Linked DNA regions of Homo sapiens: regions 2, 3 and 4 are each linked to region 1. Evidence: fine-mapped expression QTL. A gene starts in region 1. Each other region holds a variant in brackets. All regions are shown on one strand. Distances are between the middles of the regions. Region 1 holds the start of GALNT10 (polypeptide N-acetylgalactosaminyltransferase 10). Region 2 overlaps GALNT10 (polypeptide N-acetylgalactosaminyltransferase 10). Region 3 overlaps GALNT10 (polypeptide N-acetylgalactosaminyltransferase 10). Region 4 overlaps GALNT10 (polypeptide N-acetylgalactosaminyltransferase 10).

Evidence for each region. PIP is the estimated chance that this variant, and not a neighbour inherited with it, causes the effect.
Region 2: its variant is fine-mapped to the expression of GALNT10 in whole blood (TOPMed, PIP above 0.99).
Region 3: its variant is fine-mapped to the expression of GALNT10 in tibial artery (GTEx, PIP 0.95). The same link has a PIP of 0.9 or more in aorta.
Region 4: its variant is fine-mapped to the expression of GALNT10 in whole blood (TOPMed, PIP 0.90).

What each region holds. Positions count from the first base shown.
Region 1 is chr5:154,186,650-154,194,752 of GRCh38, forward strand. It overlaps GALNT10 (polypeptide N-acetylgalactosaminyltransferase 10), which reads left to right and starts at 4,084. Exons shown (of 12, transcript NM_198321.4): 1 at 4,084-4,376. The coding sequence starts at 4,218. It overlaps LOC124901118 (a long non-coding RNA gene), which reads right to left and starts at 3,430. Exons shown (of 2, transcript XR_007059010.1): 1 at 3,347-3,430. RefSeq lists an enhancer at 2,494-3,459 and silencers at 3,680-3,769, 3,860-3,959, 3,970-4,079, 4,170-4,249, 4,320-4,379.
Region 2 is chr5:154,400,797-154,408,899 of GRCh38, forward strand. It overlaps GALNT10 (polypeptide N-acetylgalactosaminyltransferase 10), which reads left to right. Exons shown (of 12, transcript NM_198321.4): 8 at 3,308-3,415. All of the region lies in intron 2 of SAP30L-AS1 (SAP30L and GALNT10 antisense RNA 1), which reads right to left. Among named protein-coding and RNA genes, the nearest start is that of SAP30L-AS1, 41 kb to the right of the region's middle. RefSeq lists a silencer at 4,548-4,597. The variant C/T (reference allele first, on the strand shown) is at 3,397.
Region 3 is chr5:154,284,012-154,292,114 of GRCh38, forward strand. The region is part of intron 1 of GALNT10 (polypeptide N-acetylgalactosaminyltransferase 10); the gene reads left to right. Among named protein-coding and RNA genes, the nearest start is that of MIR1294, 59 kb to the right of the region's middle. RefSeq lists a silencer at 1,678-1,972. The variant C/A (reference allele first, on the strand shown) is at 3,369.
Region 4 is chr5:154,242,171-154,250,273 of GRCh38, forward strand. All of the region lies in intron 1 of GALNT10 (polypeptide N-acetylgalactosaminyltransferase 10), which reads left to right. Among named protein-coding and RNA genes, the nearest start is that of GALNT10, 55 kb to the left of the region's middle. RefSeq lists a silencer at 2,473-2,522. The variant A/G (reference allele first, on the strand shown) is at 4,816.

The sequences.
Region 1 (8,103 bases):
GTTGTTGAACAGTACGTGACTTTATGTGCTGACAGAGGCACGGAACACCATAGAAGGCAAATACAAAGTTCCTGTCTGTTTGGAACTCACATTCTAGACAGGGAGACCAAAAATGATACCTGCTTTGGAGAAAAATCAAGCAAATGGAGATGGTGGTGGTGCTAGTTGATATCTTAGATCAGCTGGTCAGGGAAGCTCTCTCTGAGGCAGGACCCCTGATCTGGTTCCTGAGAGAAGGCGGAGAGAGAACCATGCAGAGGGGTAGAGGAAGAGATTTCTAGACAAGGGCACAGTAAATTTGCAAAGGCCCTGAGGGAATCATCAATTTGGTATACATTTGAGGAACATAGCAAGACCAGTGTAACTAGAAGAGAAGGAAAGAAGGCAAAAATTAGAAGTTGGGTCAAATAATGTAAGGCCTTATGGGCTGTGGTAAGGATTCTCATAGATTGTAGGTTGTTTTCTGTTTATTTGTTTTGAGAGACTTGGTCTTGCTTTGTTACCCAGGCTGGAGTGCAATTCTGTGATCATAGCTCACTGCAGCCTGAACTCCTGGGCTCAATCCTCTCACCTCAGCCTCCAGAGTAGACAGGACTACAGACACATGCCACCATGCCTGGCTTCATAGACATATTCTAACATGAAGAGAAGCCATAGGCAAGTCCCAGCAGCAGAGTTAGCCTTGTGTGTGTAAAAAGAACATTCTAGCTGCTCTGTTACCAGCACTGTGCTCAGTGCTATAGTGGCACCTAAAAGTTTTTTGCAACATTATTTAATTACATAAATACTGTGTATCCACTGCAGTATAGAAGACATAGGGCTATTCATAGCAACATTATTCACAGTAGCCAAAAGGTAGAAAGAACCCAAATGTCCATCTACTGATGAATGAATAAACAAAATGTGGCATACATACAATGGAATAGTATTCAATCTTGAAAACAGGAATGGAATTTGGCTGAGCGTAGTGGCTCACACCTGTAATACCAGCACTTTGGGAGGCCAAGGTGGGAGGATCATTTGAGGCCAGGAGTTTGAGACCAGCCTGGGAAACATAGCTAGACCCGGTCTCCACAAAAGATTTTTAAAAAATCAGCTGGGTGTGGTGGCATGGGCCTGTAGTTCTAGCTACTTAGGAGGCTGAGGTGGGAGGGTGGCTTGAGCCCAGGAGTTTGAGGCTACAACCAGCTATAATCCTATGACTGCACCAGTGACTGCACCACTGCACACCTGCCTGGGCAACATAATAAGACACTGTCAAAAAAAAAAAAAAAAAAGGAATGAAACTCAGATACATGTTACAACATGGGTGAATCTAAAAAATATTATGAGTGAAATAAACTGGAAACAAAAGAACTAATATGATATGATTCCACTTACATGAGGTACCTAGAATAGTCAAATTCAAAAAGGATAAAGTAGAATGGTGGGTAGTTGCCAGCAGTTGTGGGGAGAGGGTAATAGGGAGTTAGTGTTTAATGGGTACAGAGTTTCAGTTGGGTTGATGACCAGTTCTGGAGATAGATAGCCGTGATGGCTGCAGAACAATGTGCATTTACATAATGCCGCTGAATTGTACACTTTAAAATAGTTCAAATGATCAGTTTTACAAACGTTTATCACAAAAAAATGTGTTTAAAAAAGACATAGAGTTAGGAGCTAGAAATAGAAAAATGGCCATTCTAGGCAGAGGTAACAACAGGTGCAAAGGTACTGAGGCAGGACTGTGCCTGCCTGAGGGATGCTCTGAGGAACAACAAGGAAGCCAATGTCACTGGGGCACAATAAGGACAGTAAGGAGTGAGAGCTGATCACATATGGGCTTGTAGGGTCCTGTACTTTCTTAGGAACCTAATGAGAGGTGGGAAGCCACTACAGGGATTTGAGCAGAGGGGCGATACAATCTAACCTTGGATAAAACAAGATCATTCTGGCTGCCACATTCTTTTATTTATTTAATTAATTAATTAATTTATTTATTTATTTATTTTTTTGAGATAGAGTCTCGCTCTGTTGCCAGGCTGGAGTGCAGTGGCACGATCTCGGCTCACTGCAACCTCTGCTTCCTGGGTTCAAGCGATTCTCCTGACTCAGCCTCCCAAGTAGCTGGGATTACAGGTGCCCGCCACCACGCCCAGCTAATTTTTGTATTTTTAGTAGAGACAGGGTTTCGCCATGTTGGCCAGGATGGTCTCGATCTCTTGACCTCGTGATCTGCCCGCCTTGGCCTCCCAAAGTGCTGGGATTACATGCATTTTTAAATCTGACTCTCATTCGCCAATGGGTATAAGAAAAGCATGTACCTCACAGGGTAACTGTGAGCATTTAAAGAGGTAATGCATCTCAAGGGCTGCCTGACATAGAGTAAGCACTCAATAAAAGGTAAGCATTATTGTGATGGAAATCTAAAGAAAGAAAACAGTTCCCTGAGGAGGAGTTTTAGAAGGCTTCGTGGAGGAGGTGGCAGTTTAACTAGACACGGAAGGATGAACAAGATTTCCACCGACCTAGAGAAGGGGGTTTTATGGGTAGAAGGAGCTGCGTGGTCAACAGCACAAGAAGGAAAACACAAAGCCTGCAACAGGCTAAGCGAAGCTCAGGGCAGGGCAGGGCAGGGCACGGCAGGAGACAGAACGTTTGATCAGCCCTAGCAGGTCATAGGAGAGGAGCATGATGGACTCTAGAGCCGAGGTGATGGAAGCCTTGAAGGTTTTGCTGCAGAAATCAAGAACTGAGCTGTGATGTCAGAAAACTGAATCCCCATCGCTCAGCCTGGAGCTGGAAGAACTTGGAGGCAAGAGTTGCCAGAACGCTGGTCAAGGACTAGTGGCAGCTAGGCACGAAGGTCAGCGGCTGAGCTAGAGAAGCAGAGAATCAAGAGGACGAATGTGGGGGTGGCAGAGAGTAAGGTAGCCAAGGGGGTGCTCCGTTCCACCGCATCAGGGAGGAGGCAGCTAAGTGACCAGCGTCGAGCGCCCCGAGGAGGAGCCGCTGGCTGGCATCACCGTCGGAGTCCGGCTCCACGGCCCTCCGCATCGCCCAGAAGCCCGACTCCTCTGTCAAAGCCCTCGCCACAGTTACAGACACATTGCCTGGTCTAGTGAAATTACGTGTTTCATGTTTCAGCTCCCAGACGTCAGGGCTCAGGTCTGTTTTCATTTCATCCCAGAGCCTGGCACAGTGTTTGGCACATAGTGGCGCTCGCCAACGGTTTGCTGAGAGCTTTCCGGGAAGGGCTCAGTGCGCTTAGGATCCAAAAGCACGCGTGAGAATGCAGGGCATTCTAACTCCAAGGGGGTTGGACTTGCGTGAGGAAAGGTGCTGCAGAGAGGCTACCGTCACTTACCCACCCGCCGGTTTGCAGGATCTACAGACGGGCGGCGGCCGGGCACAGCTCCCTACAGTTTGCAGAGGGCGTTCACACCTAACGCCAGGGCCCCCCTAGAGGAAGAAAACCAGGGCCCGCCCGCGGAACAGTGAGCGTGCAGCACGGCTGTGGCCCCGTTTCATGGCCGGGAACACCGAGTCGCCGGGGTCAAAGTAGGTCCGCAGGTCCTGGGGGCCGAGCCTAGGTGGGCTGGAAGTGACAGCCCCGGGGGCTCCAGGCTCAGAACGCCCGGCGGGGCCCCAGCACTATTTGCATATCCCCAGGGAGGCAGCAAAGGTTCGGCTGCAGTCCCGGGCGGAGGTTGCCGGGCGGGGCGGCAGGGTACCCGGGCGAGCGGACATGCACCCCACCCAGCGGTGCCCAGCCCGCACCAGTTAGCGCCCAACTCGCCAACTCCGGGACTTTCGCAAAGCTCCAGAGGGCGGGGGAGCCGCCGAGGAGTGGGACGGACCATCGCGGCTCGAGAGGGGGGAAGCGCTCCGGCCCGGCATCCTGCAGCGCCCGGGCGGGCCGAGACGCTCCGTGAGAGGGCCGAGCCTGCAGCGCAGAGACTCGGCGGTCGACGCGGGGGCAGGCGGCGCGGGGCGGGCGGCTCGGCGGGGCCCGGGGGCGGTGGCGGCGGCGACGACCCCCTCGTGGCGGCGGCGTGGTGGCGGCGCCCAGCTCCCCGGCCGGCGAGCGGCGGAAGTGCCGCGGAGTTGGAGCGGGGCCGGCGCCGCAGCCGCTTCTGCTGGCTGAGCTGCTGCCGCCGCCGGGCGGACGGGCGGACGCGCGGAGCTGGGGGCGGCGCGGCGGGGCCGGCGGGGCGCGGCGGGGCTGACCGGCCCCGATGAGGCGGAAGGAGAAGCGGCTCCTGCAGGCGGTGGCGCTGGTGCTGGCGGCCCTGGTCCTCCTGCCCAACGTGGGGCTTTGGGCGCTGTACCGCGAGCGGCAGCCCGACGGCACCCCTGGGGGATCGGGGGCGGCGGTGGCGCCGGCGGCGGGACAGGTGAGTCCCCCCGTTGCTACAGGCCGGGAACACCCCCTTCCCGAATTCACTTTTAGCCTGTGGTTCCTTCCTCCACCTTCTGCTGTCTGCCTCCTCAGAGTCAGCTCCGAGACTCTTCAGCTCTTCCCATTTTCCGGATGGGAAAATTAAGTCCTGTCGGGACTTGTCCAGGGTCCCACGCCAGTCAGAGACTGAGTCCGAACTAGCACTCAGGACGCTATTTCTCACCACATGTTACCACCTTCCTTTCTGTCCCCGTCTGGTATTCCTTGACGTCTTCCAGCGGATCTCTTTTGAAGGATCCTATCTGCATCCCTGTATCCCAGGATGACTCCTGCCTTGTGCCAATAGGAATGAAGATTCTGGTTCTTCTATTTGGTGTCCAGGTCCTCTCTGCTTCCCTCCTCCCACCCCCCCCCCCCCACAACCCCTACCTGCTGATCCCAGTGTTCTTTGCTCAGGTCAGCCCTTTTCCTGATTTCTCATCTGCCCAACGAGACACCCGGGCCTTCCTCCTCTCCCCATTTATTCAACACCCCCGCCCCAACTCTAGCCTTTTCCTTTCTCAGATCCTGTGGATTCCTTGCAGAATGTAAAGATCATGCTCCCTTTAAAGCTTCAAGCCCCTGGGGGTGGAGAAGGGGGTAAGCTCCTGGTCCTTGAGGGACCTGCTGCCTTTGACCTTATGGGAGTCCAGAGGTGGGGCTCTGGTGGGGGGACCCCCAAAATGTCCCAGAGGCTATTGGTGCCCAGTGTCCTGAGGATGGAACACCAGAAGCCTTCCCTATCTCTTCTGAACTTGTCTAGTCTGGTTAGTTGTAGTGTTTATTGCAGCCAAAACTGGGATCGGAATGGTTTCTGCCTCCTTTGAACTTACCCACGTATGTTTGTGTGTATGTGTGCGTGCACGCATTTAGACTAGCAGCTCCCTCATAGCAGAAGCTCTGTCACATCACTCCCACCCTCCCAGGAGGTGCTAGTGAGTGTATTGCTTAGACTGTTTCATATAGTGGAACATTTCAGGCTTTCTTACGGGATTTCTCTGGTCCCATGAGAAGTGGATAATTTGTGTATCAGGGTCAGACTTGACTGACTGTTGGCTGGCCTCGACGAAAGAGGCTGGCTTTTCTGAGATTGATGGTTTTCCTTATTCTTCCCAGTATCAGGCTGCTGTCTAGGCAGTCTGGCATCTGGAGCACAGAGGGCTCTTTGCTACAGAGCTGACCAATTTGAGCTCCGCCTGTAACTCTGTTAATTGCTGCAAAGCATCCCAGAGGGTCTCATTGATCTTTCTGGTAGAGCTTACTGTTTAGAAACTAAGGTTTCCATCTCTTTCCTAAACCCCTGGTTCAAACCCTGACAGCTAGCTTAGACCTCTCTCCCTGAAATTCTGTATCTGTATGGATTTTCCGTTCATGAAATCTCTTTCCTCTGTTCCTATTCAGTACCAGCATCAGAGTCAGGAGTTCCAGGGTTCTGACCTCAGCTCTACCACTAACTTACTGTGTGTGTCCTTGATCACCTTTCATCTCCTTTTCTGAGCCTTACTTTCTTGGTCTGTAAACCATGATTATTGGTCCAGTTCTAACATTCTGTGATACTATCAGTTAATCAATGAGGAATACAACGGTCCCTTCTTTTTTTCTGTCTTGAGTCCAGAGTTCCTTGTAGCATCCCTAGCTGTGGAGGCTCCATACTGGACACAGCTCCAGGTCAAGGGGGAGTGTCCTACCCTAGTGCAAACTCTCCTTTAGAATAGCTGTAGCCCATTCTAAAATAGTGCTTGACATTCTGCCTCTGCTTGGAGAAAGACCTCGTATTTCATTTGCAATAGATGCCAAAGACATCCTGATTTTCATTTCTGTAGACCCAGATGGGTAGAGAAGGTCAAGGTTAACTGCCAGTTTGGCCTGAGCTTTCAAAGTAAATTACTCACTTGTGCAAGAGGGTATTGATAGAGTAAGGCAGACTTTTGGGCAGGGAGAGAGAGGGGAGCAACAGCTGGGTGCTGCTCAGAGCCCCTAACTGAAATGGATAGACAGGCTCATCTGGGAAGATCTAGTTTTTGTTCATTTCTTTTTCTCTGGAATAGCATGAAGAGGAGGAGGAAGAAGTGGTGAAGGGGGTTTGGGGGTTTGGGGGGAATACCAACTGATTATTCTTGCTTTAAAGAAAATCTCTTTGCTTCATGGGAGCAGCAGAATGGAGCTGTTTCCCCAATGATAAGCTCTTCTAGGTGCTACAGGATTCAGCATTCATCTGCTGCCTTTCAAGAACGCCCTGCCAAATTTCCACACAGCCCCTTTTTGTTTCACTCTCCCACAGATGCAGAGCACTGGGCTTGGCCCCCAGTCCGTTGTTTGAATGTCAGCTGGCCTTGAGGAAAGAGGCTGACTTCTCAGAGTGATGGTGTTCCATCCCTCATCCCAGTGTACTGGAACATACATGTAACATGCCAGGCTGCTATCTGGGAAATCTGGCATCTTGAGCATACAGAGCTTTTTCAACAGGGCTGACCAGTTCTGAGCTCAGCCTGTCATTCTTGTAATTGTTGAGAATCATCTTTGAGCATCTCGTTGATCCTTCTGGTAGAAATAACTGCAGAGGCTCTGGAGGGAAGTCTGACAGGACTTTATCCAAATGAAAAATGTGTTCCATATGGGTTTGAAAGAAGATTCTTTGAGAGTAACATATCCACTACTTGAGTAGTCCTCTAACTCCTTGATTTCTCCACTGGATTAAAGAACGGAGTTTCAAATTTATAGTGTTTATCATCTGCTAGAATGAAAGTCTACATAACTCATGCCAGCTCATCCTGGGAGTACCTCTGGAGCTGGGTGGGATAGCTGATTTATAAAGGACACATAATGCTTCTAGGATTTCAGCAGTCATCTGGTCAGACAGTTGGCTTCTTGGGAAGCTGCAAAACCAAGCAAGAAATGCCAGCCTTGAAGACATCTTCCTTTTAATTTGTGGGTCCCTCTCATTCCAAGCCCCAATCTGTTTAACATCTTGGTTTAATTCAACAGTCTGTTTCATATTCCAGGTTTGGGACAGGTTATTAAAAGCTCAAGTTAGAAACTCAGTGCAGTCTCTCCTCATTTCTGAGCCATAATCTCTTGTTGAAAAATGACTTCACTGGATAAATAGCATATGTGGAATAGAAATTGGTGGAATAATGGAATACCGGTGACTTTAATTTTCAAGTATCAGGATTTCTTTCTCATTGTGTTAGAGCTGAACTTTATTCTTAGAACATCCAGAAATCAATGTTTTTTTCTCTTTTTTCAGTCTTCCTGGTGGCAGAAGCCTTGCCCATCAGAAAGTTAAGTATAGAAATGTAGCCTTGGAACGATTTCCTTAATTTTCCACAGAAGGGCTAGTATCCTTTAGCTTGCTAATCACTCCTCTGTCTGCATGCCCAGGTGAAATCTGATGCCACTAGGGAAGGGTTGTTGATTTGCCAGAACAAATCCGGCTCCCTACATTCTTTCTGTCATTCTTGGCTTGCTGTCTACCAAGGAGTCCAGCTGAGGAAGGCCTGGGAACAGAGACCTGGCTTTTAGTCCTTTCTCCTGCCCTAAACTCACTGTGTGTCCTCAGGAAAGAGGTTTAACCTCTCTGGGCCTTGGATTCCTCATCTGCTAAGTGAGGCTTAGATTCAGAAGGGAAAAGGCAAATGCATATTGTAACGATGCTTCCCCTCCCATGGCCAGGGCAGACATTG
Region 2 (8,103 bases), 210 kb after region 1:
GTGTGGTGAGCAAGAAGTGAGTGGAATGAGGTGAGGGTGGAGGGCTGCACGGGGCTCTTGGTCAGGCCAGAGGACATTCTGAAGTGATGGGCGTGGCCTGCACTGGGATGCTCTCAAAGGACCCAGGAGTGAAGCAGCTTCATCTGAGCAGATGTCTGTCTTCCTGAGGGTAGTTCACATTCAGAGTCGGCCACCAGGGCATCCTGTGCTGGGCAGGGAAGCCATGGAGTAAACCCACTGACCAAACCCTCCAGACATCCCAGGAATCTGAGGGCATCCTGGATGCCTCAAGCCTCCCGACATATCAGGGTCACCCTGGTCCCTCAGGAACCTTCAGGCTGATGGCCAGCATGATTGGGGCCAAAGAAACCAGAGGTCACAGCAAAGAGAAGGATTTGGAAATTTATCATCCACCTGCATAAAGTTAGGTGCCTCTGCCAAGCAGAGCTGGACACAGAGCCTCATTAGCTAATGCAAGTTTAATATGAAGACAAGGAAGCTGGATGCCGACCTGATCAACTGCCCGGGAGACGTTCAGAAATAGAGCAGGGTAAGGTGTCCCACCTGCTCAGGGCCACTGCACCACCTGAAAGGCAGAGGGCAGCCCAGCAGCGACCTGGGCAATACCCGCCAGGCAAAAGCATCACTTCCACATCAATCACTTTGTATAAAGGAAGAGTTATTGTTATGGGATGCTGGCGCCTGATCAATATCTCCTGCTTTGAAAATAAACTTCTTGGTTTGGCCTTGACATTAATCTACCATCAGGAGCCCATTATCTCGAGACCAATGTTCTGTTCTATTGACTGGCTGGATTTTTTTTTCTCCCCCAAGATCAGAATATAATTGCATTTCTCCAGGCAGCACTTCCAATAATTGCAGCCCTGTGCACATCCCCTCTCGGGAGGGCCAGAGTACATCAGGGCTGGGGATGGAGACAGCAGGAAGTAGTGGGGGACAAAGGACCTTTTAGGAGCCAGGTGGAAGAGCAAGCCCTTCTAGAGCCCCTGAATTAATCAAGATGTGAAGCCCAATCCCCACGACCTCATCGAGCAGTTCCAACTGAAAAGAGCACTTTTGCACAGAATCTGGTTTGCAGATGTCCCCATTCCTGCCCCCCATTCCACAAATGAGAGACTATGGTAGCGAGATTCATAATAATGTCCTGAATCCAGCTGTGTCCCCCCATCGCCTCAGCACCCCTCACCCAGGGTCAGGACGGTCTCATATCAGGACGACTGCAAGAGCCTCCCGGGCCTACTCTCCCTGAGGCCTGCCCCATCAGGCTGTTCTCCACCCCACTGGCAGAGTCATCTTTGTAAGATGTAAGTGGATTGTGTGTCTCCCTCACTGAAGACCTTCTGTGAAGACTCCTTGTTCTGCCCCGTGAGGGCCCTGCGGGAGCCCTGCCCGCGTCTCTGGCCTCCCCTCCCATCCCTCTTCCCCTTTCTCCCTCTGCTCCTGCCCTGGCTTTCTTTTTGATTATGCCAAGCTTGGCCCTGCCCTGGTGCCTTTGCACTTGCTCTTCTCCCACCCGTTCCCTTGCCTTTACTTTCACCTTCTTGGTTCCACCTCAAACATCCCTTCCGAAGTGAGGCTTTCCCTGACTGGGGAGCATAAAGTAGCATCTCTCACATCCCATACACCCCTACAACGAATCTATGCAATGGCCCTGCTCTGCCATCGCCACCTGAAACCATCTCCCATGTTAGTTACCTATGCCAGGAAAAATTACCCCCAGAATCCATCTTAACACAATACACAGTTATGATGGCAGCGCTTCCCTAGGCCAGGGATTTGGGAGTGGCTTGGTTTGATAGCTCCACCTTGGGTCTCGCATAGGAGAATAGTCAGGCCATGAGCCAGGGCCGCAGTCATCTGCAGGCTTGACTGTGACCACGACCTCTGCTTCTTGGTGGCTCACTGACCTGGCTGGCAAATTAGTGCTGTGGGCAGGAGGCCTCAGCTCTCACCGCATGGACCTCTCCACAGCATGGCTGGGGTGTCCTCAAACATGGCAGCTGGCTCCTCCAAAGCCAGCGGTCCCACAGAGAAAGGTGGAAGCCACGGCATCTTTATGACCGTCATTTCTGCAGTATCCTGTGGGTTACACAGGTCAGTCCTCATGTGACTCACTGGGAGGCATCTACACAGGGGCACAAATACGAGGAGGCAGGGATTGTGAGGCCACTTCGGAGGCTGGGGCCTCGGCTGACTGATTCACTGCTGTGTCCTGAGTATGCACCAGATCTTGTGCTAAACCCTTTTACACACAATATCTCATCTTCCAGTCCTGCCTCCTCTATTTCTTTACAGGAAACTGAGTCTCAGAGAAGTTAAGTACCTTAATCAAAGTCATAAAGTGGGTAAGTGGCTGAGCCAGGATTCAAACCCAGGCCTGCCAAGGAGGGTCTGTGTAGGCCAAAGTCATCAAGTGGGTAAGTGGCTGAGCCAGGATTCAAACCCAGGCCTCCCAAGGAGGGTCTATGTAGGCTGGGCCCCTCAGTGGGTATGAGTCAGTATTGGCTGTACATGTTCACATTCCCAAGTTGCTATCAGACCAGTGGGCAAACTCAGGAGCTCTCTGTGATGTCAAATACTCCTCCCTGGGAGAGGGAGGCAAAGAGAACCATCAGATCCCACACTGCGGCAAGACCCAGCTGCACAGCCTAGCAAGCCAGACTCAGAGAAGGCAGGGCAGGGAGGCTGACGGAACTGCTCAGGGAGACCCAGCGAGAGGCTCATAGATCCAGGAGGAAAATAAATATGTGACAGTAAATCTACGGAACCTGTGTGCCACCTTGACTACTTATGCTGTGGCTGATGTCACTTTGTGATCACCATGGTCTTTCCCACTGATCCCCCGATGCCACCCTAGAATTCTCAACACAGCACTCCATAGTGGATTAGAGCTCAGATTCTGAAGTCAGCTAAAACAGGGTTTAAATTTTGGCTCCACCACTTACTCTGTGACCTGAGTCACATTTCTTAGCTTCTCTGAGCCTCCATTTCAGCATCTGTAAAATGTTACTACCTACTTTATAGGTTTTCTGATGAGGCTTAAGTGTGGTTGTGCATGTGACCATCTTAGCATAGTGTGTGGCAATGGTAAGCACTCAGTGCTGTCAGCTGTTTTTACCGCTGTTATTATATTACTGTGTTTTCCCATGTCATTAGGTCTGTGATCCAGGCTTCAGCAGACAATCCAGGCTGATGCTTTTGCTGAGTGCACTAAGGGATGCTGGCCTGGCGGGATGGTGAACTGGAAGCAGAAACGTCATCCTCTCTCTTCCTTCTTGCCATGCAGGTGTGGATGTGTGGGGGCCGCATGGAGGACATCCCCTGCTCCAGGGTGGGCCATATCTACAGGAAGTATGTGCCCTACAAGGTCCCGGC[C/T]GGAGTCAGCCTGGCCCGGGTAAGGTGGTGGCTTTCCTTGGCGGGTAGAAGGGGTTGGCCTAGGACCATCAGCTGCACTGAGGCACCCTGGGGCCCTAGACTGTGTTATGTGATCTCTGGGTTTGAGGATGTGCCTCCCATTCTCCAGGTGAAATCTGATTTAAAAGAACTCCCTTAAATCCCTACTTAACCATTCATTGCTATGTGACCTGGGGAGGGTTGCTTAAGTCCTCTGAACCTGTGTTTCCTCCTTTGTTTAAAGAGAGCTAATTCTTTCCAACTCCCAGCATTGCCAGGAGAATTAAGGAGGTGATACTGTTTCCCAGAGTGTGACAGAGGAGACGATCTTAGGCAGCAAACACAGGAATGTTTTCTTGTTCATGTGTTTAAGTTAATGTGGATTCTAAATTAATGTGTATTCGTGTAGCTAACCTGTAATTTCACAGATATTATTACTTAGCATACAGCTAAAGTAGGTGCAAAGTTAGACCAGAGGTGATGTAAAAAAACATGTTAGATAAATATTAATACAGGTGGTGTGGTGTGGTGTGTTTGGGAAAGCTTGCGTACTAAATTTCTGGAGGGGAAGTGGGCTTCATAAATGTCAGTGTCTTTCTCTTCTCCTCACCCCCTGTCTACTCTTACTGCCAAAACCTCTGCATGTCAAACTGTTTCATTGCCTTAAAATGGTTTCTATCAATCATTGCTTCAATTAAATTGGCCACTGGCTGCAAATGGAAATCTGTCAGCCAGAGTTTGTTTTTGGTTTGGATATTAAATGTATTCGGAAAAAAATAAATAAATCCAGGTGACCACAAAAGAAAAATGAAGAGGAGGGAGGGTCCCCAGAGGATAGAAAGAGCCTTGCGGGGAAGCTGGAAAGGACCCCCGCACAGCTTTCCCTCCGGGGAGCCTGTGAGCCCCGCCCCGGCCAGGAGACCCCGGTGCTGGCCGGGTTGGCATTAGACCGCACTGCCTCCTGTCCAGGGCGCTGCCTCCTCCTCCACTTGACAACCTTGACGTGTAGAATTGCAGCCCCCGGGACCTAGAAGAGCGTTGTCCTGTGACTTACAAGGAAAGCCGAGAGGCTCAAAGAGGCCGCGCGTCTCCCTGAGAGCCATCAGTGGGTGGGAGCTGAGCTCCGGGAAGTGTCAGGGGCCGCGTGGAGGGAAAGGAGAGCCGGCAGTGCCCTCCAGTGGTAGCAGAGCCTAACGACGCCCTCACCAGCCATCCGCGCTGCCCACAGCCCCATCCGACACGGGCGGGGGGTAGGTTCTAGGTTCAGTCCCTTGAAGCAGGAATCGCGTTCTTCTGAAAGGCCATTTGGCGATCCCTGAGGAGGGAGCCAGGCAGGAAAAGCGCACGCTCTCTCGGTACGCCCAAGACTGAGACTCTTCCGGCTACAAGGGACCATGGGGACACTCCAACTCCAGACCAGGAGCAACCCTAAAGCATTCTTTTCCTCTGCAGAGCTGTTGTTGATAAGGCTCACCTAAAAATAAAAATAGCCGGGCGCAGTGGTGTGTGCCTGTAGTCCCAACTACTCAGGAAGCTGAGGTGGGAAGATCACTTGGGCCAGGGAGGTCGAGGCTGCAGTGAGCTGTGTGTGCCACTGCACTCCAGCCTGGGTGACAAAACGAGACCATGTCTCAAAGAAAGTTTGTTGTTGTTGTTGTTGCTGTTGTTTTTTTTTTTAAAAGGCCCACCTGATAAAGAGACATTACCGCCTCCTGCTTGTTATAGAACCATTATTATAGATTAATTCAGTGGATAAGAGCTAACTGTAGTAATACTTATAAAAATTCCCTTCGAGCCAGGCATGCAAAGCATTTTACTTATCTCACTTAATTCTCACTTGTTTTTAACCCCATTTTAGGGATGGGGAACATGAAACGTGATGTTGGCGATGGAAACATTAAGTAACTAGTGCCAGAATTCAAACCTGTGTAGGTCTGACAGGTACCTGGCACATAGCAATTGTTCCTTAAACAGTGACTGCTGTTATTAGTGTTAGCATCAATATTAACAATAAAGACTGGAACATGTATTTAAAAGTCTTATCTAAATTCTGTGTTTAGGCATTTTAACGTATTTCTCTTTTACCTATCTGTACTGAAGCATCGTCCTGTGTTTGGCTTTAAGCCACTTAACAATCTGAGTGGTGCCTCATGGCTTCTTCCCCAGGGACTCTGTGATCCATCAGGTCTGATTATGTGTGGGTTCGCAGAACCACAGAGATGCCTGAATCAGGTGCGGCCTTTTATTATGGTGACTAACAACCCTCAATTACTTGCAGACCACATTTAAAATATTTGTTCAGTGGGCCGGGCGTGGTGGCTCATGCCTGTAATCCCAGCAGTTTGGGAGGCCAAGGCGGGCGGATCACCTGAGGTCAGGAGTTCAAGACCAGCCTGGTCAACATGGCAAAACCCCATCTCTACTAAAAATACAAAAATTAGCCAGGCGTGGTGGTGTGCGCCTGTAATACCAGCTACTAGGGAGGCTGAGGCAGGAGAATGGCTTGAACCCGGGAGGCGGAAGTTGCAGTGAGCCGAGACTGAGCCACTGTACTCCAGCCTGAGCGACAGAGCAAGACTCCATCTTGGGGGGAAAAAAAGTGCTCAATGTTTTAATAACCACATCCTAAGCCTTCTAGAGCATTGTCCCCTAGATGATCATTTTGATAGATTTGAGAGTTGTCCTAATAGCTCCGAGAGAGCCAGATAGAGAGAGAAACTGAGATTGTACGGACTCCGGAAGGACAAACAGCCAGACAGCCTTGAGGTAGAAGCAGTTCAGGAAGGATGAGCTGTCCACCAGCTTGCCTGCCTCAGGAACAAGTAGCCAGTCTTACATTGTTTACTAAACTTGCTGAAATCTTTCTTATCTTTGCCTCTGGAAAAAGGATCTTAGGGAAGGCAATAACAGAAACTACTCAAACTTGGTGAAACAAAAATGGAGACTTACTCCAAGGATCCAGGCAAATCTCTGTAATCCAAGCACAAGAAGTACAGTTGGGCCTCAGACGGGACTGGGACTCGGAAGTAGGAAGGTGTTGAGAGTAGAGGTATGAGGAGCCCGAAGCCCACTGAAATCCCAAGGTCCTTTTTATGTCTCTAACAAGGGGAGATGTGAGAGAAATAAGTGTAAAGTCATTTCCTTTGGTGCAAACAGTGAACTGTAGCAAAAAAGTTCAAAATCTGGGAGAAAGAGCTTTTCAAGCTGTGTCTGGAAGATACAATTATGCAATATTAATTAAAATGGTAATTATAATTAGAATTAAAATATGATGTTATTCAATCCTTTAAGAATGACACTGGTAAATTTCAGTATCATTCTTAACCAGTCTGGCCATGGTCAGAGTGTCCAGACTTGTTTTCAGTTGGAGTGAAACTACCCTCATTACCTCTGTGACTCGAGCAGGTTAGACAGTGAGCCAAAAGAGCCTGGTGGACATACTGGAAAAAGCAGAGGAAATATTGTGTTTCAGAGTGTTCATGTAGACAGTCTCTGTTAGGCCTTCAACTTCCTCTAGCACAGTTTTAAATTAAACACAGCCTTTTCTGTGCAGGGGCCTGGTGGGGATAAACACTGTTCCTGAGCTGTTTTCTAACCCACTGTGGACTCTTCAGCACTCAGGAAGAACTAGGTAGCAACAAGGAAATTCAGCTGTTTCCTGGTCCCCAACTCAGAGCCAGCAAAATGGGGGAACTGGTGAATTTTGTCTTCAGTGCGGGGGCCTCCCTCATGTTGGCTTCCTTCTCCATTACTCCAGAGTCAGCAGCCTGTTTTTGTATGGCCTGTGACCTAAGAATGGTTTTTACATTTTTAAATCATTAGAGGGAATGGGAATCAAAAGAAGAATATTTTGTGATACATGAAAATCAAATTTCAGTATCCATAAGTTTTACTGGAACCCAGCCACACCATTTATATGGTGTCTATGGCTGCTTTATAGCTACATCAGAGGTGAGACCATATGGTCTGCAAAGCCTAAGTATTTACTATCCGGCTCTTTATAGAAGACATTTAAACATTTGGGACCCCTGCCTGACCTTCTGCTCCTAGAGCAATCCTTCACACTGAGGTGCAAATGACTGATAACAGCTTAAACTGCTAACTCCCCTTTAACCTTTCAGAGGAAATTTTAGATTGCAATAGGGAAAAAACTTACGAAGGAGGTAAAACCGAAGAGTTAAAATTGGGGTGGGGGGACAACAGCCAGGGGTTGAAGAAAGATGTTTTGGAGCGGAGAATTTCCCCTGAACCCTGAAGTTTTGCTCTCAGATATATCACATATCAGAAGTTCTCACTGGGTGGGGTCTACACTGCAGATGGAATCAGGAATTTTCATCACATACATAAGAATTCCCTCTTCCTCTGTCCCCAAGTCTACTCACAAACACTTTCCTCACCTGCTGCCTCTGCTTGCCAATCATGTGGCTGTCATTTTTTAAAACTGATTATCTTTGTGCTTCATGATGAAAGTAGCAGCAACCTTTGCACCTCAAAGGATTATTAGAAATTCCAGCTGCTGATGGAATTACACCTTTTGGTTTCAAATTATAATTTGCCTTTATCACATAGCTTGGTCAAAACTCTCAGTTGAAAATGACAAAAAGCCAAATCAAATTGGCTTAGCGAAGAAAGAATATACAGGCTTCTGTAACTGGAAAGTCCAAGGTAGCTCTAGCTTCAGACATGGCT
Region 3 (8,103 bases), 97 kb after region 1:
CCTGGTGCAACTGAGAGGAAGGAATGGGACATAAATATAAAAATGCTTTGTAAATTATAAAATACTACCAAATAGTAACTAATAATGGTAGCTAGCATTGCTAGTGCTTTCTAGATACCAAACACTGCTAAGAGCTATACTTGCTGCATCTCATTTAATCCTCATAATAACCTTTATGCTAGGTACTATTAATTTCCCCCATTTTACAGTTGGGAAACCAAGGCTTGTGAAAATAGCGTAACTTGCCCAAGATCACAGAGCTAATAAACAGAACTGTGGCACAAGCCTAGGCATTTCTGATGCCAAAGCAGATGGTCTTCTTCACTTTGGTCTGCTGTCTTCAGAATGTAGGGGATTATGATTATAATTATTACTATTATTAGAGCAAGTACTTTATTACTGCGTGGCTCAACCCTACTTACCCAGCTAGGAGATTAATAGGATGTGTTTGCAGTCATTTTTTAGTCTCTCTCTGAAAAGTAGGAACTTGCCTTCTGATGAGCTTTCCAGTTCCTTTTTTTCTTTTTACCCATCCACAGCTGCTGTGCAGAGCAATATTGCAGCCCTTGCTCCTGCCCAGCCCGTCAAGCCTCTAAGAAGAGCACTTTCTAGGGGCTTTCCTGTGATTGATCACACATCAGCTAGACTGAGATTTTCAAAACCTCTTGTGAATTGCCCTCTTGGTACAGAAGTATGATTCATCTCAGCACGTTTTCCATATTTGAGGGCTATGTTCCTGCAGCCTTTCTAGATACTGAGTTTGGGAAGGAATGGGCAGGTACATGTGGTAGGTGCTATTAGCTGTGATGATTACACTCATGTGGTGGTTGGCAGTTTGCAAAACGCTTTCATATCGATTTTCTCTCCAAGCCTCAGTTTTGTCATCTACAAAGTGGATATAATGACGATAATAATATAGTCAAGTCTAATCTCATGAAAGAGTTAGGCTATAATAAACCCACCACTTAAGGTGAAAATAACACAAAATCAGAATCACCCTTGACAATCGCTCATGGAATATGAAGACACACCACCTCTCAAAAGTCCAGTGTGGGCAGTTTTAAATCCAGCTTGAACACCAGTGATAACTGTTTCTTTGGTTGAAGTAATCACAGTGCCTTCTGAGGTAATGAAAATACTTATCTTCCTAGAGTAGGCTCCCCCAGCACAGAGCGCTCACACTTCCAGGGGCCAGAGAGAACTGGGGCCTCCAGGGACACTGTGAGGGCAAAGGCACACTCTGCATGAGCACGGGAGGCTCACCACCACCCTTGTAGGATTTCTCTCTTCTTTCTTGACTATGTGTCACTGAATTCTTGAAGGTGAAATAGACATAAAATCCTATCTCATTAGGTCTGATCTCCTGACTTGCTTTCTATGGACAGTATTGAAACTTAAAAGTAACATGTGATGACACAGACACCAGGCTAGGTGAGGGGAGAGCTGGGCTCAGGTCCCAGGTGGGTTTCACCTGCATCTGTGGGACTATTGATATCCAGCTCTTACAGATGAACTTCTCACCTGACTGTCCAAGTTCTCAGGCTCTATTTCTTGACTCAAACCCACAGGACCCTAGTAACCCTATTTTTAAAAAAAATCTGTGTGTGCCCACCCCTACTTCTGCCTTCCCAGCATAAGCTAACATCATCTCTGCCTGCACCACTGTGATAGCCTCCTTCCCAGCCTCCACCCCTCCTCTTGGCCTCCTAATCCCTTTTCCACTTGGCTACAAGAGAGCTTTCCAAATGCAACCTGATCTTATCACCTCCTTATAGAAAACACTTGTATTTCTAAATGCTCCTGGAGGAAAGACAGAATCCTCACCCCTGTCCACCTCTCATTCCTACCAGACTTTCCCTGCTTCTCTGTGCACCACACACACTGCTCTTCCAGGCCCTCCTATGATTCATGTTTGCTCAGCCACAGAATCTTTGCATATCTTTACTTTTCCCTCTGTCTGGAATGCTGTGTACTCCTCTTTCTACTGAGTTAACCTGTAATCCAATTTTCTCAAGAAAACCTTGCAGGCTGGATCAGATCCCCCCAGTCTGATCTGAAAGAAAGGGACTATCTTTGTACCATGTACCCCTCTTTTATGGCCTGCCACTGTAGCTTTTTTAATTTACCTGTAGTTTCGGATGAAAGTCTACATTTCCCCACCACCACACATACTTCTATAAGCTCTATGAGAGTAGGACCCCGTCCGTCTTCCTCACCAGTATATCCTCAGCACCTAGCACAAGGCTTGATTTGTGCTTGTGTTCATCATACACTTAAGTTGATGGACAGATGGACAGACAGACAGATGGACAGATGGATTGATAGGTAAGAGACTCAGATGAACATTATCAAATTATTGATCAGAGTCGATTTGTTTTTTTTTTTTTTTCCCAGTGATAAAACATTTGGGCACTTATCCTGAAGAAAGTGTTGAAATTGTTCTTTTAGAATGGAAGGGAAAAGCTACTGAAGGTTCTATTTGCCCTTTAGATAACAGACATTCCAAAGTATCTTGGCTTTTTTTTCTCCCTGCTGTTTAAAAAATCTTTTAATGAGCTTTCATGCCTTACGTAGCAAATGACCTTTTCTAGAGCCACCTACACCAAACAAAGGAATTGGAGGGTTGATATGGTTCTGCCCTTGGAAACACAGGATCAGCCCTTTGAAACAATGGCTCCTATCTGTGAGTGACCTTCCCCTCTTAGAGAAGGGCCAGATTTCAGATTTCAGCATCCTGGTGTTGAGACAATGGAGTTACTGGAGTGGGGACAACAGACACAGCCCCATTGCTGATTGGAACAGCAGGACTTGCCTGACGTGGGCCCAGCAGACATAGACTCGTGGTTGCTGGGTTGTAATGCCTCCTTCCATTCATAAATAGTGCCATTCAGGTTTGATTGTTTTCTCATACAGCTTGGTCCTGGTTATAGTGAAAGTTAAGTTTTCTCAAAACAGCAGCCTACTGAATAGGTGCTAGGGTTAGGTCAGCCTCACTTAAGTCTGACTGTGGGGTACCAGAATGAATGATCCTCAGCCTATGAAAAGGGGACATTTTCTCTGAATGAAAACAAAATCATCTTTCTCCTTGCATTTCTCATGGGAGGAGGAGGATTCTGAGATTAATTGAAAGTGGAAAGGTAGTAACGTATTTTATTCTTGGAGTTCTACTTCAGCCTGTTCCTTGCTCAAAGGCTTACTGTGGCTGCCCACCTGCCAAGCAGCTCAAATGTAAGGCCCTCCAATTCTGGTCCAGACTTCCTTCCTGGTCTTATTGCTCGTGACTCACTTTTGCATCCTGCTCACTCCAGCCAAATCAGGCTCCTTGCCCTTAAGTAAATATGCCCTTCACTTTCTAACTCGCATTCTTT[C/A]CACATACTTTCCCTCTAGCTGGATTCCACCCCCAACCCCCACCCCTCAACTGCTACCAGTTAAAATCCTACCCCTTCTCTCAGGTTCCTGTCAAAGACTCTGCTTCTGCAGGAATTCTTCCCCGATCGTCCCAGGTAGAATTTAATTTTTGGCTTTTGTAAATATCTATCGAATTTATCTGTACAGCTTTCAAGGCACTATGTTATAGGCTTGTATGTGTGTATGTGTGTTTTCCTTCCTTAAATACTTGTCTCATAGCTGTTTGTGGAGGCCATGGACTACCTTGTTCATCTTTGTCTCTCCCAGAGGTCTTTGGCCATAGTAGGCCCTCAATAATCATTGTTTGGATGAATGAATTAATAAAAACAATCCAGCTTATGTCCTCAAAACTCATGAAGAAAGTACATTTATCTAATTGTCCAAACTCCCTTGTTTAAACTTTATATGCTTTGAGCTAAATTAAGCCCTACCTGGTCCTCTTTGAAGGTAATCTTGAAGAAATTGCTTTGCTGTGTGTGTGTGTGTGTGTGTGTGAGAGAGAGAGAGAGAGTGTGCATGTGTGTGCATGTGTGTGTGTGTGAGAGAGAGAGAGAGAGAAGTTTATTAATCTACTTGGTAGATAAACAGATGTTTGAAATGATATAGTTATTTAAACCTCAAAGCAAAATCATTTCATTGCCTTTGTAGGGTTCTTTGAGAGGAAGGTGGAGGGGAGCCATCCTAAAATTTGCAGCAGAGCCTGGTCTCTAACACAGCCTCAGACTGTGGATGAAGCAGATGACCTGCTCAGCTTTCCTTCCAACATTGCTGTTTGAGCGCATACAGCCCTTTCCTTGTTTTGAAGACACTAGCCAGCTCAGCCAGAGATGCTCTTTGCCAAGTCTGCAGTCTTGGGATTAGAGTATGCACTTTAACAAATCTTCCTTCTTGAGCAGAATGTAGTTGGCTTGCTTCACCACCATTCTTTCCTACCTCCAAAGGCTGCCAGGCCTGCTAAATAGTGATTAAACAAAGATTAAAATTCCATTTGTGTGTGTGTGTGTGTGTGTGTGTGTGTGTGTGTTTGAACACTAATCGATTCTTTTAGTGGAATGTTAAGTAAAAGCATGCAGATACCAGAAGCAGTTATTTAGAGCAGCCAGTCAAAATCCATTGCCAATTTATTATTTAATGTGATTTCCACATTGATTCTGCCAGTCTCCTCCACACACTCTCCCTCACTTCTTGCCATGTTCCTTCCTAACCCCTTTGCTTCCTGTAGCAGAAGGACATCTGGAAACCAAGAGAAAGCAAAGTAGCAAAAGATGGTTGTTGAAGGAAAATAATTACAGCTTTTGTAGACAAATCTTTGAGCTTACAGAATTAAAGAAACTTAAAATTACCTCTGGATTGAAAAATCCAGACGTGATCTTTTACATAATATTAAGTGATTGCTATTGCATAATTGCTGTCTTTTGAGAAGCAATGTTCCTGCCTTTTCTGTTGTTAATGGTCTTGTGGCATTTGTTTCTATTGTAGAATGCCACTATTAACTAAGACTTTTTTCTTTCCTTGAAGAACACTGTGTTTCGATGTGGGCATATGACATCCTGTTAATGAGGAAATTCTAAATCCTGTTATCAGCAAGAGCCAGTTGAATTGAATCAGGTGGTAGATAGGTTGCCTCTGCAGGACCCACAGTTTTCCTTATTAGTTTCCTGTTCGCTCTCCTATTCCTCCAAACATGGTTATCACAAACACTGGAACATACCGTGTTTTCATAAACTTTCCCTAAAAATAATGTATTCATAGTTGCTCACCTTTACTAGGAGAGGACCTAACTTTGTCCCAGACACTGGGACACTTTGTCCCGGATTAGCTCAGTTAATCCTCCCAACAGATACTCTTATTCTGTTAGTTTTCTCTATTTATCAGTCAGGGAAATTGGGCTCCACCTGCCCAGGAAGTAAAACCTAGGTTTTCCTAACTCTGGAACCAGAATGTTCCAAGTCATTAAACTAGACTACCTTTCCCATTGATGAGCATTCATTCATTCATTCAGCTGGTATTTTTCAAGGGCCTAAGATTAGTCAGGTATTGGCCTAGGAAAGTGCAGTGGTGTAATGCCCCTGCCTTCAAGAAGCTTACAGTCTATTCCAGGGAGAGAACTGCAAGCTCTGGTTTGGTCCTTGGGGCTGACAAGCTGTAGGATTTAGGGCAAGTCCATTCTACTCTGTTAGCCTCAGATTTCGTATCTGTAAAATGAGGCAGCTAGATTTAGACCAAAGGTCTTCCAACTTTATTGTGAATTAGAATCACATGGAGAATGTGTTTTCTAAAAAAGGTATCTTCCTGGGCTCCTATCTGTAGACATTTTTACTTAGTAGGTTCAGGGTGTGAGTCCAGGAATTTGCATCTATAATAAGGGCCCAGGTTCTCCAAGAACCACCTTTTGAAAGAGACTGATCTTTCTGTAAACCTCATTAGGCCTACACAGTATCTGTGCTGTCAAACCTGAATCCCTGGTGCCTGACACACTGCTTTGTACAGAGTAGGTGTCAGTAAACATTTGGTGATAGTTTAGATGATCTGGGGTTTCTTAATCTGCACTATCTCTAGAAATTCCATGGATTGTCCTCAGAGGCTCCTAAACCACCTGAAATTGACCACAATTTCCATTAAGGTTTTTGGATAGGATTCTTAGGGCCCTTCAGGCTCCATGTACTCTGTAATTTTTTTTTTTTTTTTTTGAGACGGAGTCTCACTCTGTTGCCCAGGCTGGAGTGCAGTTGCACAATCGCGGCTCACCACAACCTCTGCTTCCTGAGTTCAAGTGATTCTACTGCCTCAGCCTCCCAAATAGCTGGGATTATAGGTGTGTGCCATGACACTCAGCTAATTTTTTTTTTTTTTTTTTTTTTTTTGTATTTTTAGTAGAGACACGGTTTCACCATGTTGGCCAGGCTGGTCTCAAACTGACCTCAAGTGATCCGCCCACCTCAGCCTTCCAAAGTATTGGGATTACAGGCGTAAGCCACCACACCTGACCAACTCTATAATTTTAAGACTGAAACTAGTTTTCCACCCTACTGAAGGCCCAGACCTATAACTGGGATACTTTTTAACCTATACAATAAAATTTGAGTTTTATATCTACATGATTTGGTGAGATGTCAATTTACAGTAGATTCTTAAAATCCTAAAGGAGTCAGTGTCCTCAATCCATGTGTAAATTAGGAGAGCGCTCAGGCTATACTGTTTGTGATTGTCTCCGTTCATCTGAAAGTACCTTTGGGCAGGTAGTGCTGTCTCCATTTTCCAGGTGGGAAAATTGAGGTACCTGTGACTCCTGTAGCTCATGCAAGGTCACACTCAAGGGTTCTTTCCCACTAAAAACTAACCTGGGAGTCAAAGGACATGGTTTTTATCCTCTTGCCTGCTGTGAGGCCTTGGTTGGGTAGCTTGGCTTGTTTGGACTTCAGTTCCTTTATCTGTAAGATGAGCGGAGGTGTACTAATTGTCTCTGAGCAGCTATTTAGCTCAGATGGCTGAGGACTCTAGCAGCTGCGTGCTTAGACATGTAGAACTCCCTGTGTCAGCAGGCTCCAAAGTCCTCCTGGTTTAGGGAAGGTATAAGGACCAATGAGACCTAAAACAGCATAGTTCATCTCTGCAGACCCTGGGAGGGAGGGATAGAGGGAGCAGTGTGCATCATAAGGCAAAGGCAGTGGAGTTAGGTATGAAACTCCCAGGATTTTGGAGCCTTAATTCTCAATGCCATCAGTTCAGCAATCCAGTGTTTCATTTTGAGAACATGATTCTAGGGGTTTACTTCTGTGAGGTCAAAACAGTGAGATTTATCCCTGTACCCCATTCCCAGTAGCACTGGAAGACTTTCACAAGCTTGTAGAGGAAATAGTATCCTTCATGGAATCTTAGACTCTTGAAGGGCCCTTTAAAGGTTGCCTAACCCTTGCTACTCAAAGTGTCTTTTTTGGCCCAGCAGCGTCAGCATCACCTGGGTTCTTGTTAGAAATGCAGAATCTCAGGCCCCGCCCTAGACCTACTGTGCCAGAATCAGCATTAACAAGATCCATGCATGATTCTCCTGCACATTAAAATTTGAGAAGCACTAGTCCCAACCCTGCACTTGATTCTTCTCCTTCACATCCTGATGAACACTCAATCTTTCTATTCCTGGCCACTTCTAATATCTTCTTCCAAATGGTTTTATTTCATCCTAGCAGCGACCCAACTTTTGGAATTTCTTCTCTGTCTGAGGCCCCTCAATCATTCAGTAACATCTACCATTGGCCCTTAGTGTAGCCTTAGGACTTCATGGAACAAAATAACTTCTCCCATGTCCTCCAGGGCTTCTTATCTCCTAGTCCTCATAGTTTCTAATCTTTCCCAACCAGGATACATTCCTGAATATCCCAGCATGTTTCAAGCTCACCAGGGCCAGGCAGGTAACAAAAATGAGATATGGGAGGCAGGTGAAATGCAATAAGGAATGGTAGGGACTGTGGCAAACTGGGGAGACGTGCCCCATCCACACAGCCCAGCTGATGAGCTGAGGGAAGTCAGCCCAGTACTGGCATGTCTTTTAGGTTTTCAAGAGAAGCCAAAAATCTTGATAAAACAATATGAAATCTCCCCATTTTCACACTAGAATTAAGAAAACCAAACCAAAACGAAAAGCACCTTGAAAGCCACCAGGTTGTTTGCCAGTGACCACATTTGGCCCACGGGCCT
Region 4 (8,103 bases), 56 kb after region 1:
ATTACCAGAGTCTTGATTCTACTCCACTCAGTCTAATTCGATGAGTCTTTTGATAATAAAGCACTATTTTTTTAGGTTGGTCCAGGGTTCCCTGCAGGACAGCCATCTTGTTTGAGGAGGGTACAGTCTCTGCCCCACTTTGAACCTCCTGAGGCCGCACTTTTCTGGTGGTAGCCCAGAAAGCTGCATTTTAAGGTTTCTAGGGTGACTGTTATGGTTTGAGAATTGCTGGTCTGAGCCTGGGCCCTTTGCAGCACTGTTGTGTCCCTCGGGCACTTTTCTTCTTCCTGCTTCTCCTGTATTATGCTCTTTGAATACTCTTTGGTGCATCTGCCCAGGCAGCTTTTCCAGGGTTAATAATAACTGTGATCCTATGAGGCATAAACCCTCCCTGGAGAGGGTCCCAGTGGCCAGGCAAAAGCTCCTAAATCCCTGCTTCCCTCCTGTCACTCTCTTGAGAGCTCAATGACCGTGGGCACTTGTGGGATTATGCCCAAGCACTCAGAGCCCTCCTCTGTGTGACAGTATTGTCCTGGCTCAGCCTTGCTGACCTTGTCTGCCTAAAGTGTCTGAGGTTATTCTAGCTCCTACCCTCAACCCAGACTCCCAGATATAACCCATGCATTTTAAAAAGCCCTTCCTTTTCATTGGTCTCCTTGGAGCACAATAGCCACCACTCCTTAAAAGTGCTTCAAGCTTGTCTAGTTACTGTTTTCAGCCCTGGTCTCTTACAGCTTTGTTATTTGTTCTATTTTGGCATGTCTTTTGATTCTGCAAAGCTTAAATTACTTTCCTAAGAGTGTAGTAAGTCAGTTCTGTTAAAAGCACAGACCATGAAACACAAGCAGATCTGGGTTCACATTATAGCTCTGCCACTTACTAGCTGTGTGACCTTGAGCTGGTTACTTCATGTCTCTGTGCCTTCTCTCCCATCTGCAAAATGAGATAGCATCAGCCCTCACTTTATAAATATTTTTAGAGATGGGGTCTCAACTTATCTTATCTCAAATAAGATAATGAATGAAGGTGATTAGCAGTGTGCCTGGTACACTGTCATTGATGGTATCACTGTATCCTCCCTCGGGAACAGGGACTACTCTTTTGCTTTCTACTCCCACTCACTTCTGAGCATTTGCAGTTCCCATAACAGACAGAAGAGAAATGCAATATTTGTTGAACAAATTATTTGACTCTTCCTGTTTCCATCTGAGTACTATTTAACATAGGACTGCTTGCCAGGTGTACCTGGGTATACTTTCCCACATAAGCAACTTTCCCTTTTGGGGAGAATTTAACCAAAAGTGCCAATATTACGTAGTGGTTAATAATGCATAGTCCAGAATTAGACTACCTGGATTTGACTGCTGTTCTGCCATTTGATAGCTGTGTGACCTTGAGCAAATTATTTAACCACTCTGTGTCTCAGTTTTCTCATCTATAAAAGAGAAGCAATAATAGTTCTTTCTCATGTGGTCATCATGAGGATTAAAGTAGTTAATAGAATTAATTCTTTAAATAGGGTCTGTCACAGAGTAAACCGTTGATGAAAGTTGTTATTATTATGTTCTTTCAAAGATCTTTCAGGGAAGGAGTATTGCTGTCTAAAGGCATTTCAAGAAGTTGCTAGGGGAGCTGGTCTTAACACTCAGAATTCTTCCTCTAAGCCATTGTTTGACAGATATTATAAATTGGTCCCCATCTCTTCAGCCACTGGTGGCTTAATAAGGATTTACATTCCTGAGATGTTAGTGCTTTAAAGGGTGCTTAGAGAGCTTCTTGGCCAGAGTCCTCATTTTATAGATGAGGATAAGAGGCCCAGACAGGGAGGAAGCTTGCCCTGGTCACTCAGTGGGTGAGTAGCAGCACCAGGAACCAGAACCAGAGCCCAGGGCTCGGACCATGACAGCAAGCACTTAGTTTTCATTGCCATGTTCCGCAACCTGCAAGGGATGAGAAGGCTCATTTTCTCCCTAAACGGGAGCTTTGCCACTGCTGGGAATGGAGTGACCGCCTAGCAAGTGATGGATTACGTAGTTAGATAGCAGTCATGTGGCCTGTATTATTCCTTGCATAGCCACAGCCACATTTGTATAATATTAAGAATTATTTCAGGAGGCTGGGTGTAGTGGCTCATGCCTGTAATCCCAGCACTTTCAGAGGCTCAGGTGGGAGGATTGCTTGAGGCTGGGTATTTAAGACCAGCCTGGGCAACATAGTGAGATCCTGTCTCTAAAAAATTTTTTTTTAATTAAAAAAAAAAGAATTATTTCAACCTGCTTTGAAAGTGAGATGAGATTCCAACATATGAAAGGCTTTTTTGGGGGAATGCTGGATCAAGTTTCTACTGTGAGCCCAGAGGGCAAAGCTGGGACTGGTGAGATTGGGGGAGTTCAGTGCTTATCCGTGTAATAAGTTAGTTAAGAGTGTTTTCTCTATGCTGGAGGACTGCCCAGGATGGAGTGATAATCCGGCAGACAGCAAGGGTGGCAGATGTGAAAACACGTGAGCCCAGTAAAGGGGAACAGGTGCTGTGAGAGAAGCAAAGGCAGCAGCCAGAGAGGGCAAAAAGCAGGGGCAGCCACTTCAGCCTGGAACCAGGTCTCAAGGAGGTATCACTGCTGGGGTATATCTTCAAAGATGAATGTGTGTTTTCTAGGCAAATGGAGGTTGGGACTTTCCCAGCAGAGAGAACACAGCACAGTATGAAAAGTTCACCATTTTTGGTGGTCTCAAAACTCCTTAAGTGTGGAACATGGAGTTGAGGGGAGACCTAGATGTAAGATAGAGATTGGGGGTGCTGATCACCAGGGGCCTGTGGGTTCTTCCTTGGAGCTGAAGTCCATGGGGTGCCACTGCAGGGATTCTGGAAGCTCATGCAGCAAAATGAGCTGCACAGCTTTGCAATTTAGAAAGCTCACTGGGCTGTCAGCCTGGAAAGCAGGCTGGAATGGACACTGGAGTCCAGGAGAGCTGTTGAAGACTTGTGTGGTGATGCAAGGGGGTGGAGATGACAACTAGAGCCACCATGGTGGCAGTGAGGATGGGCATGCAAAGACAAGGATGAGAGGACAGAAGAGTCCAAGAGGTGGAGTCAGCACGACTTGGTCACCAGTCGGATACGGGGAGGTGAGGGACAGGTGATGTTGAGGCTAGCAATGACAGCTGTTGTGCATTGAGCACTTAGCTATGTGCCCTGCATGGTGCTAAGCACCTGACATGGGTGATCTCATTTTATCCTCACCAGTGGGTACTACCCCTGTAAGCTTGCTCTACCCATGTCACAGCTGAGAAAACTAGCTCAGAAAGGTTCAAACTTGTCCTCAGGTCACAGTGAATGAGTCATATAGCTGGGACTCCGAGCTCTGGCTTTTTTTTTTTAATTATATAGTCGTCCTTTAATAAATTCTACCTTTTGAACACTTTTATCACTTTGTGATCTTCATATATTAATACATTAATATATGTAAGCCACAATCAGAGGGGAGAATCTAAGCATTTAGTCTACCAGGTAATGATGAAAAGAGGATGTGTATGATTAATTCATTTGAAATATTATGGACGTCAATAAACAATGGAAATGGTAAGCATCTGGGATAAAAGTGGGCCTGGCCAGGGATGTCTGGTGATATCTTAAGCGCTTTTTTTTTTTTTTTTTACTTTAAGTTTTAGGGTACATGTGCACAACGTGCAGGTTTGTTACATATATATACATGTGCCATGTTGGTGTGCTGCACCCATTAACTCGTCATTTAACATTAGGTATATCTCCTAATGCTATCCCTCCCCACTCCCCCCACCCCACAACAGGCCCCAGAGTGTGATGTTCCCCTTCCTGTGTCCATGTGTTCTCATTGTTCAATTCCCACCTATGAGTGACAACATGCGGTGTTTTTTTTTTTGTCCTTGCGATAGTTTGCTGAGAATGATGGTTTCCAGTTTCATCCGTGTCCCTACAAAGGACATGAATTCATCATTTTTTTTGGCTGCATAGTATTCCATGGTGTATATGTGCCACATTTTCTTAATCCAGTCTATCATTGTTGGACATTTGAGTTGGTTCCAAGTCTTTGCTATTGTGAATAGTGCTGCAATAAACATACGTGTGCATGTGTCTTTATAACAGCATGATTTATAGTCCTTTGGGTATATACCCAGTAATGGGATGGCTGGGTCAAATGGTATTTCCAGTTCTAGATCCCTGAGGAATCGCCACACTGTCTTCCACAATGGTTGAACTAGTTTACAGTCCCACCAACAGTGCAAAAATGTTCCTATTTCTCCACATCCTCTCCAGCACCTGTTGTTTCCTGACTTTTTAATGATTGCCATTCTAACTGGTGTGAGATGTTATCTGATTGTGGTTTTGATTTCCATTTCTCTGATGGCCAGTGATGATGAGCATTTTTTAATGTGCCTTTTGGCTGTATAAATGTCTTCTTTTGAGAAGTGTCTGTTCATATCCTTCGACCACTTTTTGATGGGGTTGTTTGTTTTTTTCTTGTAAATTTATCTGAGTTCATTGTAGATTCTGGATATTAGCCCTTTGTCAGATGAGTAGATTGCAAACATTTTCTCCCATTCTGTAGGTTGCCTGTTCACTCTGATGGTAGTTTCTTTTGCTGTGCAGAAGCTCTTTAGTTTAATTAGATCCCATTTGTCAATTTTGGCTTTTGTTGCCATTGCTTTTGGTGTTTTAGACATGAAGTCCTTGCCCATGCCTACGTCTTGAATGGTATTGCCTAGGTTTTCTTCTAGGGTTTTTATGGTTTTAGGTCTAACATTTAAGTCTTTAATCCATCTTGAATTAATTTTTGT[A/G]TAAGGTGTAAGGAAGGGATCCAGTTTCAGCTTTCTCCATATGGCTAGCCAGTTTTCCCAGCACCATGTATTAAATAGGGAATGCTTTCCCCATTTCTTGTTTTTGTCAGGTTTGTCAAAGATCAGATAGTTGTAGATATGTGGCATTATTTCTGAGGGCACTGTTCTGTTCCATTGGTCTATATCTCTGTTTTGGTACCAGTATCACGCTGTTTTGGTTACTGTAGCCTTGTAGTATAGTTTGAAGTCAGGTAGCATGATGCCTCCAGCTTTGTTCTTTTGGCTTAGGATTGACTTGGCAATGCGGGCTCTTTTTTGGGTCCATATGAACTTTAAAGTAGTTTTTTCCAATTCTGTGAAGAAAGTCATTGGTAGCTTGATGGGGATGGCATTGAATCTATCAATTACCTTGGGCAGTATGGCCATTTTCATGATAATTGATTCTTCCTACCCGTGAGCATGGAATGTTCTTCTATTTGTTTGTATCCTCTTTTATTTCATTGAGCAGTCGTTTGTAGTTGTCCTTGAAGAGGTCCTTCACATCCTTGTAAGTTGGATTCCTAGGTATTTTATTCTCTTTGAAGCAATTGTGAATGGGAGTTCACTCATGATTTGGCTCTCTGTTTGTCTGTTATTGGTGTATATAAGAATGCTTGTGATTTTTGCACATTGATTTTGTATCCTGAGACTTTGCTGAAGTTGCTTATCAGCTTAAGGAGATTTTGGGCTGAGACGATGGGGTTTTCTAGATATACAATTGTGTCATCTGCAAAAAGGGACAATTTGACTTCCTCTTTTCCTAATTGAATACCTTTATTTCTTTCTCCTGCCTGATTGCCCTGGCCAGAATTTCCAGCACTATGTTGAATAGGAGTGGTGAGAGAGGGCATCCCTGTCTTGTGGCAGTTTTCAAAGGGAATGCTTCCAGTTTTTGCCCATTCAGTATGATATTGGCTGTGGGTTTGTCATAAATAGCTCTTATTATTTTGAGATACGTCCCATCAATACCTAATTTATTGAGAGTTTTTAGCATGAAGGGCTGTTGAATTTTGTCAAAGGCCTTTTCTGCATCTATTGAGATAATCATGTGGTTTTTGTCGTTGATTCTATTTATATGCTGGATTACATTTATTGATTTTCCTATGTTGAACCAGCCTTGCATCCCAGGGATGAAGCCACTTGATCATGGTGGATAAGCTTTTTGATGTGCTGCTGGATTCGGTTTGCCAGTATTTTATTGAGGATTTTTGCATTGATGTTCATCAGGGATATTGGTCTAAAATTCTCTTTTTTTGTTGCGTCTCTGCCAGGCTTTGGTATCAGGATGATGCTGGCCTCATAAAATGAGTTAGGGAGGATTCCCTCTTTTTCTATTGATTGGAATAGTTTCAGAAGGAATGGTAACAGCTCCTCCTTGTACCTCTGGTAGAATTCAGCTGTGAATCCATCTGGTCCTGGACTTTTTTTGGTTGGTAAGCTATTAATTATTGCCTCAATTTCAGAGCCTGTATTGGTCTATTCAGAGATTCAACTTCTTCCTGGTTTAGTCTTGGGAGGGTGTATGTGTTGAGGAATTTATCCATTTCTTCCAGATTTTCTACTTTATTTGCATAGAGATGTTTATAGTATTCTCTGATGGTAGTTTGTATTTCTGTGGGATCAGTGGTGATATCCCCTTTATCATTTTTTATTGCGTCTATTTGATTCTTCTCTCTTTTCTTCTTTATTAGTCTTGCTAGTGGTCTATCAATTTTGTTGATCTTTTCAAAAAATCAGCTCCTGGATTCATTAACTGCTGCGCCTCACCATTCCTTGGGTTTCTGGCTTAGGCCACTGAGGGAATGAGGGCATTTTTCTTTCATGCTGGTCATATAGAGGAGTCAGAGCGGGAGAGGTTGACCCAGTCTTATAGTCCCATATGAGGAATGGCAGTATTTTAGGCTCCAGGCTCCAGATAAGTTGCTGGAATGTCTATGGAGATACTAGAAATGGCTAAGAATGGTTTTGAAAGAGCTCTCAGTAGCTTTGCAGCTTTGCTTTCCTTTTCTGGTGCAATGAGAAAGATTGGGAGTCAAATCCAGCTTCTAGTTTAGTCCCTGTGTTACCAGCTATCTGATCCTAGGTAAGTCACTTTAAGTTCCTGGGCTTGCCCCTTTTCCTTTCACATAATGCAGTTCCTGGTCTAGTCTTGACGTGCATTTGTTCAAACACAGATTTCTGGCCCCCATGCCCAAAGTTGTGATTCAGTAGGCCTGATGTGGAGCCTGAGAATTTGCATTTCTAATAAGTTTCTAGGAGATGCTAATGCTGCCGGACTGGGGACCGCACTGTCCTAGGTGCTCTTTCTGTTCCTTTTGAGCAAGTGAGCTCCATTCCAGTGGGCAGAGACAAAGCAGGCAAATGCACACACCAATATTAATACCAGAGGGCATTCAGTCCAAGGCAGACAGCATAAATCAAGCAAAATGGGTGGCACTTTGAAATGACAACAGAGTAGAATTCATCCTGCCCTTCCATTCTCTCCTACTCTTTTTTAATCCTATGCCCACCACCAGTAAGACCAAGGCCAACTCCAGCCCCCCCCAGTAACTTGTTTCCCTTTGTGGGTTTCAGGATAGATGGGTCCATGGAGGAGTCCTATATACCAACTGTGGTCAGGGCCAAGACACCTGCCCCAAACAGTTGATGGACTGAAGATACCCAAGAGAGGCACAAACTCCCCATGTCACAGGAGTCTACCAGTTTGAGAGACAAAACTTCTACTAAAGTAGCCTACAGGGCTGCCCTTTACCCTAGGCAGCAGAAGCCTATGGTCTGAGTATTGCCTTTGGGTGAGGAGAAGAAAAGCTTCTCTCTCTTGCTACCCCACAGATCACCCATGTTGGCCTCCTTGGCCTTCAGGGGCATATAAGGGAATTTTTTTTTCTTGACCACACTCTAGGCATGAGCAGCATCAGGCCTCCCTGTGACCCTGTGCCAGAAATCTGATGAAGAAATTCCAGGGAGACAAATGGAGATTACATGGAAATCAATCATGCACAGCTGGTGTTTTCTGCAGGCAACTGTTCAATTTTATTTCCTTTTCATTTTTCTCCCCGTTCCCGGGGATCAACTCCTTTAAGAGCTTGACACCAGCTAGACTTGTGCGATTAAGTGGTAAACTTAAACTGGCTGCTGCAGCCCCCTATGTGTTTCTGTGGAACTGGGAGATTGTTCAGGGCAACTGATAAGTCAGTCCTTTGGACCACTGATGGCATGGAAACTATTTAAAGGCATTTTGGTCTTTCT